Regions from separate parts of the Homo sapiens genome. Here region 1 is linked to region 2. Evidence: fine-mapped expression QTL. A gene starts in region 2. The other region holds a variant in brackets. All regions are shown on one strand. Distances are from middle to middle. Region 1 holds the start of LOC124903282 (a long non-coding RNA gene). Region 2 holds the start of RNASE6 (ribonuclease A family member 6).

The links.
Region 1: its variant is fine-mapped to the expression of RNASE6 in whole blood (TOPMed, PIP above 0.99).

What each region holds. Positions count from the first base shown.
Region 1 is chr14:20,713,150-20,718,530 of GRCh38, reverse strand. LOC124903282 (a long non-coding RNA gene) reads left to right here and starts at 2,808. Exons shown (of 2, transcript XR_007064061.1): 1 at 2,808-5,381. The variant A/T (reference allele first, on the strand shown) is at 2,981.
Region 2 is chr14:20,778,807-20,784,187 of GRCh38, reverse strand. It overlaps RNASE6 (ribonuclease A family member 6), which reads right to left and starts at 2,920. Exons shown (of 2, transcript NM_005615.5): 1 at 2,850-2,920; 2 at 1,721-2,493. The coding sequence starts at 2,488. The coding sequence ends at 2,036. The region is part of intron 1 of LOC107984671 (a long non-coding RNA gene); the gene reads left to right. RefSeq lists an enhancer at 1,776-1,845.

The DNA.
Region 1 (5,381 bases), 66 kb after region 2:
GGAAGGACCTTATCTAGTGCTCCTAACTACTGAAAGCGCAGTCCAGACAGCAGAAAAAGGATGGACCTATCACACCCAAGTCAAGAAAGTGCCGCCCCCTCCAGAGTCGTGGGCCATAGTCCCAGGGGAAAACCCTACCAAACTAAAGCTAAGAAATTTTTTTTTTTTTTGAGACAGAGTCTTGCTCTGTTGCCCAGGCTGGAGTGCAGTGGTGCGATCTTCACTCACTGCAACCTCCACCTCCCGGGTTCGAGCAATTCTCCCGCCTCAGCCTTCCGAGTAGCTGGGATTACAGGCGTGTACCACTACGCCTGTATAATTTTTGTACTTTTAGTAGAGATGGGGTTTCACCATGTTGGCCAGGCTGGTCTTGAACTCCTGACCTCAAACGATCCACCTGTCTCGACCTCCCAAAGTGCTGGGATTACAGGCGTGAGCCAAGCTAAGAAAAATTTAACTCTCTTATTACTCCTTCTTCTTTCCTCATTCTATTGCTGACCACCTCATTATTAATGTAACAAAGTCAATTTCACCTCAAACTATTACATTTGATGCTTGCCTTGTTATACCTTGTGGAGACTTGTCAAGTTAAAGACAGCTCTCCAATTCAGAAAAGTACCTCTGTCCTTCCCGGCTCTCCTCAGACTGGACATTAGTGAATGGGGATCATTTAGTCTGGAGAGATTTCAATAAAGACCCCAGTATCAGCTGGGAGTCTTGCTCCTGCAAGACAGAGCTTTTATGCCACAGTTGGTCCAACATTCTGTGGACCACTAAAGAGCAAGGATGAGCTGCCCCAACCAGTGGTTGTAATTTCCTAAAGTCATATATTCACTTTACTAAAGGAACAGCTTCACCTAGCTGTCAGCTGAACCGTGCAATCCAATACAGGTTATTATCTCAAACCCTCAAAGCTCTTCCCCTTCTCTAAGCCGGTTCCCTTCTTTAAGCCGGTTTTATGGTGTGGGGGCTGAGGTTTCAGGAACAGACCCTATCAGATCCTTTGAAACACAATTCATTGATCCTCTGCCGCCTACACCTTCCCTTAAGCCTTCTTCCAGAAGCTCTCACAACAAAACTGTTGTTCTCCTCCATCTAATGACAAGACCAAGGTAGTTATTATAGAAGTTAAAGACCTAAAACAAACTTTGGCAATTGAGACAGAATATCAAGATGCTAATGCCTGGTTGGAGTGGATCAAACATTCCATCCACACTTTAAACAAAAGCATTTGTTATGCTTGTGCGCACGGCAGACCAGAAGCCCAGATTGTCCCCTTTCCATTAGGATAGTCCTTTAGTCTACTAGGCATGGGCTGTATGGTTACTTTTTTCCAGGATTACACAGCCTGGGGTAAAAAGTCGTGTCAAGCTCTCTCTGCTATATCCTGAGGTTCAATACCCTGCAGGTCAGCCCCCAAGGTCCACTCAGCTTCTGTCCCCTGACGCTAAGTTCACTTCATATCTCTCACTACAGGGAGGAAACTTAGCATTCCTTGGAGACCTAAAAAGATGCAGTGAGCTTAAGACTTTCCAAGAGCTTACCAATCAGTCAGCCCTTGTTCATCCCCAAGCATATGTATGGTGGTATTGTGGTGGACCTTTACTGGACTCTCTGCCAAGTAACTGGAGCAGCACTTGTGCTCTAGTTTAATTGGCTATCCCTTCCACCCTAGCATTTCATCAACCAGAGAGAGGAAAAATACAACATCATAAAACAAGGGAAGCTCCTTATGGGTCTTTCAACTCCCACATTTATTTAGATGCAATTGGAGTCCCATGAGGAGTACCAGATAAATTTAAAGATCAAGATTAAATAGCTGCAGGATTTGAGTCAAGATTAAATAGCTGCAGGATTTTGTGGGTGACAATTAATAAAAACATAGATTGGATAAATTACGTCTATTATAATTAGCAGTGGTTTATTAATTACACCAGGGATGCTGTCAAAGGGATAGCAGAACAATTGGGGCCCACTAGCCAGATGGCCTGGGAAAACAGAATGGCCCTAGATGTGATATTAGCTGAAAAAGGCAGTGTTGGTGTTATGATTAAAACTCAGGGCTGTACCTTTATCCCAAGCAACACTGCCCCCACTGGGAGCATAACAAGGGTCTTACAAGGACTTACTGCTTTATCCAATGAATTAGTTAAAGATTCTGGAGTCAATAACCCTTTCTCAGGATGGCTAGAAAGGTGGTTCAGTAGATGGAAAAGATCATAGCCTCGATTCTTACTTCTCTTGCAGCCGTAATAGGTGTACTCATTCTTGTTGGGTATTGTGTCATACCATGCGTCCGTGGGGCAGTGCAAAGAAACAGCACCTACTAAAACCTCCCTTAACTTTCCTCCACCTTATTCAGAAAAGCTTTCTTCTTTTAGAGGATCAAGTCAAGCAGCAAAGCCAAGACATGTTAAAAAGGTTTGAAGAGGAAGGCCTATGAAAATTGAAAGGGGGGAGATTGTAGGATACAGTAAATTCCTCTTCAGAGTTAGCCTGTTAACTTCCTTTAAAATTCAAGATGGTGGCTGGGCGTGGTGGCTCATGCCTGTAATCCCAGCACTTTGGGAGGCCAAGGCAGGCAGAACATGAGGTCAGGAGATTGAGACCATCCTGGCTAACATGGTGAAACCCTGTCTCTACTAAAAAATACAAAAAAATCAGCCGGGCGTGGTGGCGGGTGCCTGTAATCCCAGCTACTCAGGAGGCTGAGGCAGGAGAATGGCGTGAACCCAGGAGGCGGAGCTTGCAGTGAGCCTAGATTGCACCACTGCACTCCAGCCTGGGTGACAGAGCAAGACTCCATCTCAAAAAAAAAAAAAAATTCAAGAGGGAGAAAAAAATCATTTAAGTACAATGAGTTCTGAGTTCCTCTTCAAAGAACAAATACGTCAGTATGTTCAGCTTCCCTGTTCTTTGTTCTCCATTTTGAAGTTTAACTTCCTTGTTCTTTACACCTCCTTGCCTCTAGTTTCAGTAA[A/T]CAACCCCCTCCTAGCCTCTATCACCTGTTCTGTCCTTAGGCATCCTTACTCTCCTGTTCTGTAACTGTCCTTCCCTGATGAAACTACTCACCCCACCACTCCAGCTCATACACTCACTCTCTTTAAAATTTCCAACTGGAATTAGCTTAGACTGTGTGGTCCAACCCTAGCCAACAGGGGAAAGACACAGCAGTAGGGACTAGCTGCATTAGGAATAAGACGCCCTTCTCCTCCCTTGTCTGGTGTGCTCTCACCATTGCTCCATCTGAGAGATGCACCCTTCTATAGAAGTAAATTGCTTTGCTGAGAAAATTTTTGCCTGAGTGCTATTTTCACTCTGTGGCACCGAGCACTTACTTCCAACAGTTTGGTTACATTTTTTATCACCCAGCATGGGGCTATATGTCTCTACTGGTCTAGCGTGCCTGGTTTCCGATGGATGGAGCAATTGGCTGTGGCATCATGCCAGGGCTTACTCATTCATGCTACCAGGCAGAGCAACAACTTCTCATGAGGATTAGCTGCTCGTGGCTAGCTGACCTCCCAGCTGGGATTCTAGGGTTGTCCCAGCAGCTGCCAAGAACATCTTTTCCCTCCTTCCCCCTCTGTGGCATCAGCTGCCTGCAATGCTTTATTAGTATAAGGAAAATGATAGTTGAGGAAGTTGACAGGATTCAAGACTGGGTAAATCAAACCAGTTTGCATGCTAGAAATCCTCTGTCTCTGCCATTTGGGCTTTATGCCATTTGGACCTGACACAGGTCTTTTGCAGTATCAGTTAGCCTAAGATTTATTAACTTCCCAGTCTCCTTCTACAGGAATTGGTTCAGGAGTACTCTGTGTTGATCTGTGTGTTTGTGTTCTTTTGATCTCTCCCCTGAGAATGGGCAACTTGACTTCCATTCCATCTAAGTGGCCATTGGGCTGTATATTGGCTTATTGGAAAGCTTATAGCTATGAACTCATAACAAAAAAGATAATGATTTTTTTTCATTGTAACACTGTTTGGCCTATGTATGTGTTGGAATCTGAAAAATGGTGGCTACTGAACAGTGATTTACATTAGTACACCTTATTACAGTTGGCGTTATTTTGCCTAAGATCTGGGAAATGAAATGAGATTCCATGTGTTTAAGCATTTATTACATAACAAAGACTCAGCACATGAGGGGTCTATGTGAATGACGTAGAGAAAAGGGAAAAAGAGATTTCTCTTTCCAGATAGTAAGACCCAAAAGGAAGAGGATATTGATGATATGGGCCTCATAAATATCTTAAATTTCCCCTCCCATGTGGTACTGGGGGCACCAGCCCTCCCAGGATTACCAAATGTAGCCCAGGACCCGGAGAGGCCAAGGTGTCAGCTCCTCTCCCCAGGATGGGGAAGGAATAGAAATGGCTGCTCCACTTGCAGATTTTACTTGGGACCCCAACAATGGAGGAATGGCCCTGTCCAGTCATTATAAAAAGCATGTGTTGGCAGGGTTAAAGAGAAGAATGTAAAAGAGCTTAAATAAAGCCAGGGCAGTTCTCCCAAAGGCAGATGAGAACCCCTGTGAATTTCTGGAGTGCATTTACCAGGTTTACCACAAGTGTATGGACTATGATCCAGAAGCTCCTGAGAATATGAGAATGGTAAACGTGACTTTCATCCAATATTAAACGAAAACTGCAGAAACTGGAGGGGGTATTTGGAATAAACCTTTCCCAACTGCTGGACATTGCCTTCAGAGTATATAATGCCAGGAAGGCCAAAAAGCTAAAGCAAGCCATGATATACTTGGAATTAGTGGAAAGAATGTATATCCGAAAAGGAAAAACCAGGCACAGGGAGGTGGCCAGAACAAAACTCTAGGTAATGATCAGTCTGCCCCCTGCAAGGAGGAAGGTCATTGGAAATCTGAGTGCCCCAAATTAAAGAAAAGACAGGGAAACCAGAAGAAGGGAGACACAGTGACAGAGAAGAAACATACTGGCTGATGGTAAAGCAGGACTGTAGCTCAGATAGTGAAGGAGGCCCAAATCTTTTGGAGCAGGTTGTAATTTCCCCACAGGAACCTCAGGTACGATTGACAATGGGGAACAAATTGATTGACTTTTTAATCAATACTGGTGTGACTTATTCAGGTAGAAACACTAAAGAAACTGAAAGTACTAGGAAAACAGTGCCTGTGATGGTTGTCGCTGGCAAGATGCAGCAAACAGCCTTTCTCCAGACCCTGGAGAGTCTGGAGACTGCCGGACACAGAGATCTGGAGCTGAGACACAGTTTCCTCTATATGCTGGAATACCAAATTCCTTTGCTGGAGTGAGATTTGCTTTGTAAACTAAATTGCCATGTGACGTTTTTCTCCAGAAAAACAACAACTTCATCTGCAGGTCCTGCCAGAGCAAGCTTTG
Region 2 (5,381 bases):
CACAGATTCTCCCTGCCATTCCACCACACTTTACATGAAGACTCTGAGACAATAAAATGTAAATGCAACATGGCTTAAAGCTGAATACAACTGAAAGCTGCTTTGAGTTAGAGCACTCAAGTCCCACTGTAGGATTCCCTCTATAAGGTACCCACCTTCTTAGGTGCCATATTGCCCTGACCTGCTAATCTCTTCCCAATGGGAGGGCCCTTGATCAGTCATCACCCTGGAATCCAGGCTCCTGAAACCTCATATTCCATTCTTTGTTCCTAAGATATGACATAAATGTGTAGCGTAAAGGAAGGTGAGCTGAGTTAGCATATCTATTAAACTAATAGTCTGGCTTGGAAAGAATCATTTGCAGCACAGGTAATGAAGACACTACAATATGTAGCCTTTTCAAAAAAACTTCATTGTCTTTGGCTGCTACTTGAAGACTCATCACTGTACAAAGCACTTGGGATTTACACTGGCCCACTAGCCCAATGACTCTAGAGGTTGACAAGGAAACTGAAGTTCCTTCTGTGAAATGGCTTAGTTCAGGTTCTGTTCCAAAACCCCAATACTTCTGTGGTATTTCAGTATTTACATAGGACTAGAATGTTTTTAGTTTCCTAGTGCTTTTTTCTCTTTCTTTCTTTCCTTTTTTTTTTTTTTTTTTTGAGACGGGAGTTTCGCTCTGTCACCCAGGCTGGAGTGCAGTGGTGCAATCTCGGCTCACTACAGCCTCTGCCTCCCAGGTTCAAGCGATTCTCTTGCCTCAGGCTCCTGATTAGCTGGGATTACAGGCTCCTGCCATCATGTCTGGCTAATTTTTTGTATTTTTAGTAGAGATGGGGTTTCACCACATTGGCCAGGCTGGTCTCAAACTCTTGGCCTCAAGTCGTCTGCCTGCCTCGGCCTCCCAAAGTGCTGGGATTACTGGTGTGAGCCACTGCATTGGGTCTCCTGGTGCTTTTCTCTTTTTCTTTTTTTGTTTTTGAGATGGGAGTCTCACTCTGTTGCCCAGGCTGGAGTGCAGTGACACAATATTTGCTCACTGCAACTTCTACCTCCTGGGTTCAAGCGATTCTCCTGCCTCAGCCTCCCGAGTAGCTGGGATTACAGGCACTGCCACCACGCCCAGCTACTTTTTTTGTATCTTTAGTAGAGATAGCGTTTCACCATGTTGGCCAGGCTGGTCTTGAACTCCTGACCTCAGACGATCCACCTGCCTCAGCCTCCTAAAGTGCTGGGATTACAGGCGTGAGCCACCACGACAAGCCTAGTGCTTTTTTCTTGATCTATGCTTTCTATTTATCCATTTCAATAAATAATGGAGGATTGACCCTAAGGTTACTACAATGGATTATTATCCCTATTACTACTACTATCACCTTATATTTAAAACATTATCTGATTAAAAACGGAAACAAATAGAAAAGACATAGGATCCTTCAGTTGCCAGTGACAGAATCTATGTGTGAGTTATCATCAACTGTCTTTGAGGTATCAGTACTACCTCCAATTAAGCATAGACAATGGTTTCCAGGGGAATATATAAAGTCATGAGCAGAGTTTGAAGAAATGCTCCAAAGTCCCAAACGCTGTCCTTTCTTGTGGGCAAGGAAGTGGGGCCCCAGGGAGGCCTCAAAAGTTTTCTAGGGACTTAAAGTCAAAACAGTGTTCCTCTGAGTACCGGTCAACAATGCTTTGAAAGCGGATCTCAAACACACACTCATTAGAATGCAGCAGGAAGTGGTTTTATTGCTGTGAACACAGGGCAATAAAGCTTGGCAAAAGTTGCAGGGTTAGAAATCTGAATCTTTCTTTGCTGTCTTCCCTATTCCCTTCTCTCGAAAAGTACAGAACTACAAAGCAGAAAATAATCTTATTTCTTTTTGTCTCAACTCTGGTCTGGCATCCTAGGCACTCGAATTCTCCAAACACCTTTCTTCTTTCTTCTACGGGAACAAGAAAATCAACAAAAGAAAAGAAAACATGGATGCAATTGTAACAGAAGCTATGTCAAATGAAAGGAAATGCAGTGGATGCCTTAGAGAATACTATCTAAGTGTACAGGAACCAACTTGTAGGGGGGATCGCTCTTCTGAGGGGGGTCACAGGCAACAATGAAGAATTTGTACTGGGCAGCAGCACTATAGCGGCACTGGGGATACTTTCCTGAAGTGAGTCTGCAGTCAGTCATGTTGACAGGCTTTGAGCTCTGGTGGCAGTTGTGCCGACGATTTTTGCAGACAATGCTGAGCAAATCACAGACAGCAGCCACATTCTGGAAAGAGTCATGCAGAAAGGTATTTTGATGCTTACAGTGCTGGGTATAATTGTTGATGCCACTCATTGCCCTGTTGCATTGGAGAGGACTTGGCTGTATATGCTGAATTTCAAACCAGTGAGCCTTGGTGAGACGCTTAGGCCAAGCATGAAGTGGACACACTGGTCCCCATAGAACCAGCAGCAGTAAAAGAAGAGGAAAGCATAGCACCATCTTTTCTGTGTAGAAAGAGAGAAGATAGTTATAGTAGGAGAAGCAATAAGAGCAAAATTTTTAATCATAACTATTTAGATTTTTATTTTGCCTTTTAAGATTTTACAGCTCCCTTTAAAATCTTCTTTCTCACATAGTCTCACAATTCTATGAAGAACCTGAAGCCCAGGAAACAGAAATATGACCTCTCCTTTGATTGGCATATCCCATTTTCTTTCACAAGTACTCATGCATTTGATGGCTGTCATATCAGAAAGTTTCTTCCCTCTTCCCTCCTGAAATATTTACCCTCTATCTGACCACTACCTCCCAGCCGTCTTTACTGCTCTACTCGCTCCAGCCCTGAGGCTTTCTTTCTTACCTGGTCTCAGTGTTGGGGCTCCTGCTGAGAACAGAGGCTGTGATTAGTCCAAAGCTCAGAAGCTGTTGTCTGCCTTTCTTCTCTAACCCTTCGAGCCCTGTGTGTATAGGGAAGGGGAAGAAATATTCTGAGCTTTCAGAAGGAGAATCCTAGGGTTTGGCAGATTAACTTCTTGTGCAGAGTCTGGATTAAACTCTTAGACTTTCACACCTGTTCTTTAAAACAGTATCATTATCACATGTATACAGGAAGGCTAAACCAACTTAAAGAAACAACATGACTGAAAACTCACAGTTTTGAGGAACTGATCACTTCCTGATATGGAATGAGTGCTTCCTGCCTCATCTGAGGCTTCAGTGTTTTTTTTTGAAGCTTTATGATTCCTGTTTCTTAAGAGAAAATATGTCACATAAATATGATATAATGCCTGCCACATACTTGGTAATGTTGTAAGTTCCTACAACAGAAGTGAATACATTATTCATTTATGCATATACTTATTGGGCCAGGTACTAGGCTACACAAATTCAGGAGCTCATGAGTTTTTTTTTTTTTTTTTTTTGAGACGGAGTCTTGCTCTGTCGCCCAGGCTGGAGTGCAGTGGTGCGATCTTTGCTCACTGCAAGCTCCACCTCCTGGGTTCATGCCATTCTCCTGCCTCAGCCTCCCGAGTAGCTGGGACTACAGGTGCCTGCCATCACGCCCAGCTAATTTTTTTGTATTTTTAGTAGAGACGGGGTTTCACTGTGTTAGCCAGGATGGTCTCTATCTCCTGACCTCGTGATCTGCCAGGAGCTCATGATTTAATGAAAGAGATTAGAGACAGGCAGGTAAGTATATAGACAAGTAGATTATATTAATATAAATAGCACTTACAGTGTGATGGAGGACACTGCAGGAGGCTACGGGAAGATAGTAGAGGGGAAGGATTGTTGGAGGGCACAACACCTGAACTGAATTTTGAGGAATAATTAGAAGTTAGGTGAAGAGAGTGTTAAGCGCCTCCCAAAGACAGAATTGTGTATGAAAAGACCTGTAAGCCTGAAGAAGAAGGCCGAATTTAGGATATTTGCCTCTTGAATCTGTTCTTACCTTTTCACTGGTACTGCAACACCCTTATTCAGAAACTCATTGTCTTATGGAGGGCTCACATAAAAGCCTCCCACATGGACTCCTTGCCTTGTTTTTTTCTCCTTCCAATCCATTCTACATATTACTTCCAGATTAGTCTTTTTTTGAACAAGATATAATAGTACAACACTCTTGCCCCATGCTTTTATGGCTCCAAATGTCTGCAGAATAAACATAATGTCTGTTTATAGCAAGGTTGCAGGATACAAGGTTAATATACAAAAGTCAGTTGCTTTCTTATATACCAGCAATGAACAATTGCAATTTGATATTTAAAACACAATACCATTTATATTGCACCAAAGAAAGTGAAATACTTAGGTGTAAATCTAATACATTATGTAAAAATTGGTATGAGGAAAAATTTAAAACTCTAATGAAAGAAATTGAGGAAGCACAGATATTCCATGTACATGAGTAGGAATACTCAATATGTTAAGATGTCATTTCCTCTCAACTTGATCTATAGATTCAGCACAATCTCAATCAATATCCCAGCACATTATTTTGTGGATAGTGACAAACTGACTCTGAAGTTTATATAAAAGTAAAAGATTCAGGTTGGACACGGTGGCTCACGCCTGTAATCCCAGCACTTTGGGAGGCCGAGGCAGGCTGATCACGAGGTCAAGAGATCAAGACCATCCTGGCTAACACAGTGAAACCCCGTTTCTACTAAAAATACAAAAAATTAGCCAGGCCTGGTGGCGGGCGCCTATAGTACCAGCTACTTGGGAGGCTGAGGCACGAGAATCGCTTGAACCCGGGAGGTGGAGCTTGCAGTGAGCCGAGATCGCACCACTGCACTCCAGCCTGGGTGACAGAGCGAGACTCTGTCTCAAAAAAAAAAAAGATTCAGAATAGTCAACACAATGCAGAAAAAGAAGAACAAAGTCAGAAAACTGACGTGACCCAACTTCAAAACTTACTATAAAGCTACAGCAATTAAGACAGTGTGTTATTGGTGAAAAATAGACAAATAGGTCAATGGAACCAAGTAGAAAGCCCAGAGGTAGACCCACACAAATACAGTGAACTAATCTGTGACAAAGGATCAATTTTCAATTGAGAAAAGTTAGTCTTTTCAACAAATGGTAGTAGAACTGAATGTACACATGCAAAAAATAAATCTTTTCATAGGTTAGACTTCATACATTTTCATAGACCTGTACTTTATATCTTTCACAATTTTTTTTTGAGATGGAGTTTCGCTTTTGTTGCCCAGGCTGGAGTGCAATGGCATGATCTTAGCTCACCACAACCTCTGCCGCTCAGGTTCAAGTGATTCTCCTGCCTCAGCCTCCGGAGTAGTTGGGATTACAGGCATGCACCACTACACCCAGCTAATTTTGTATTTTTAGTAGAGACAGGGTTTCACCATGTTGGTGAGGCTGGCCTCGA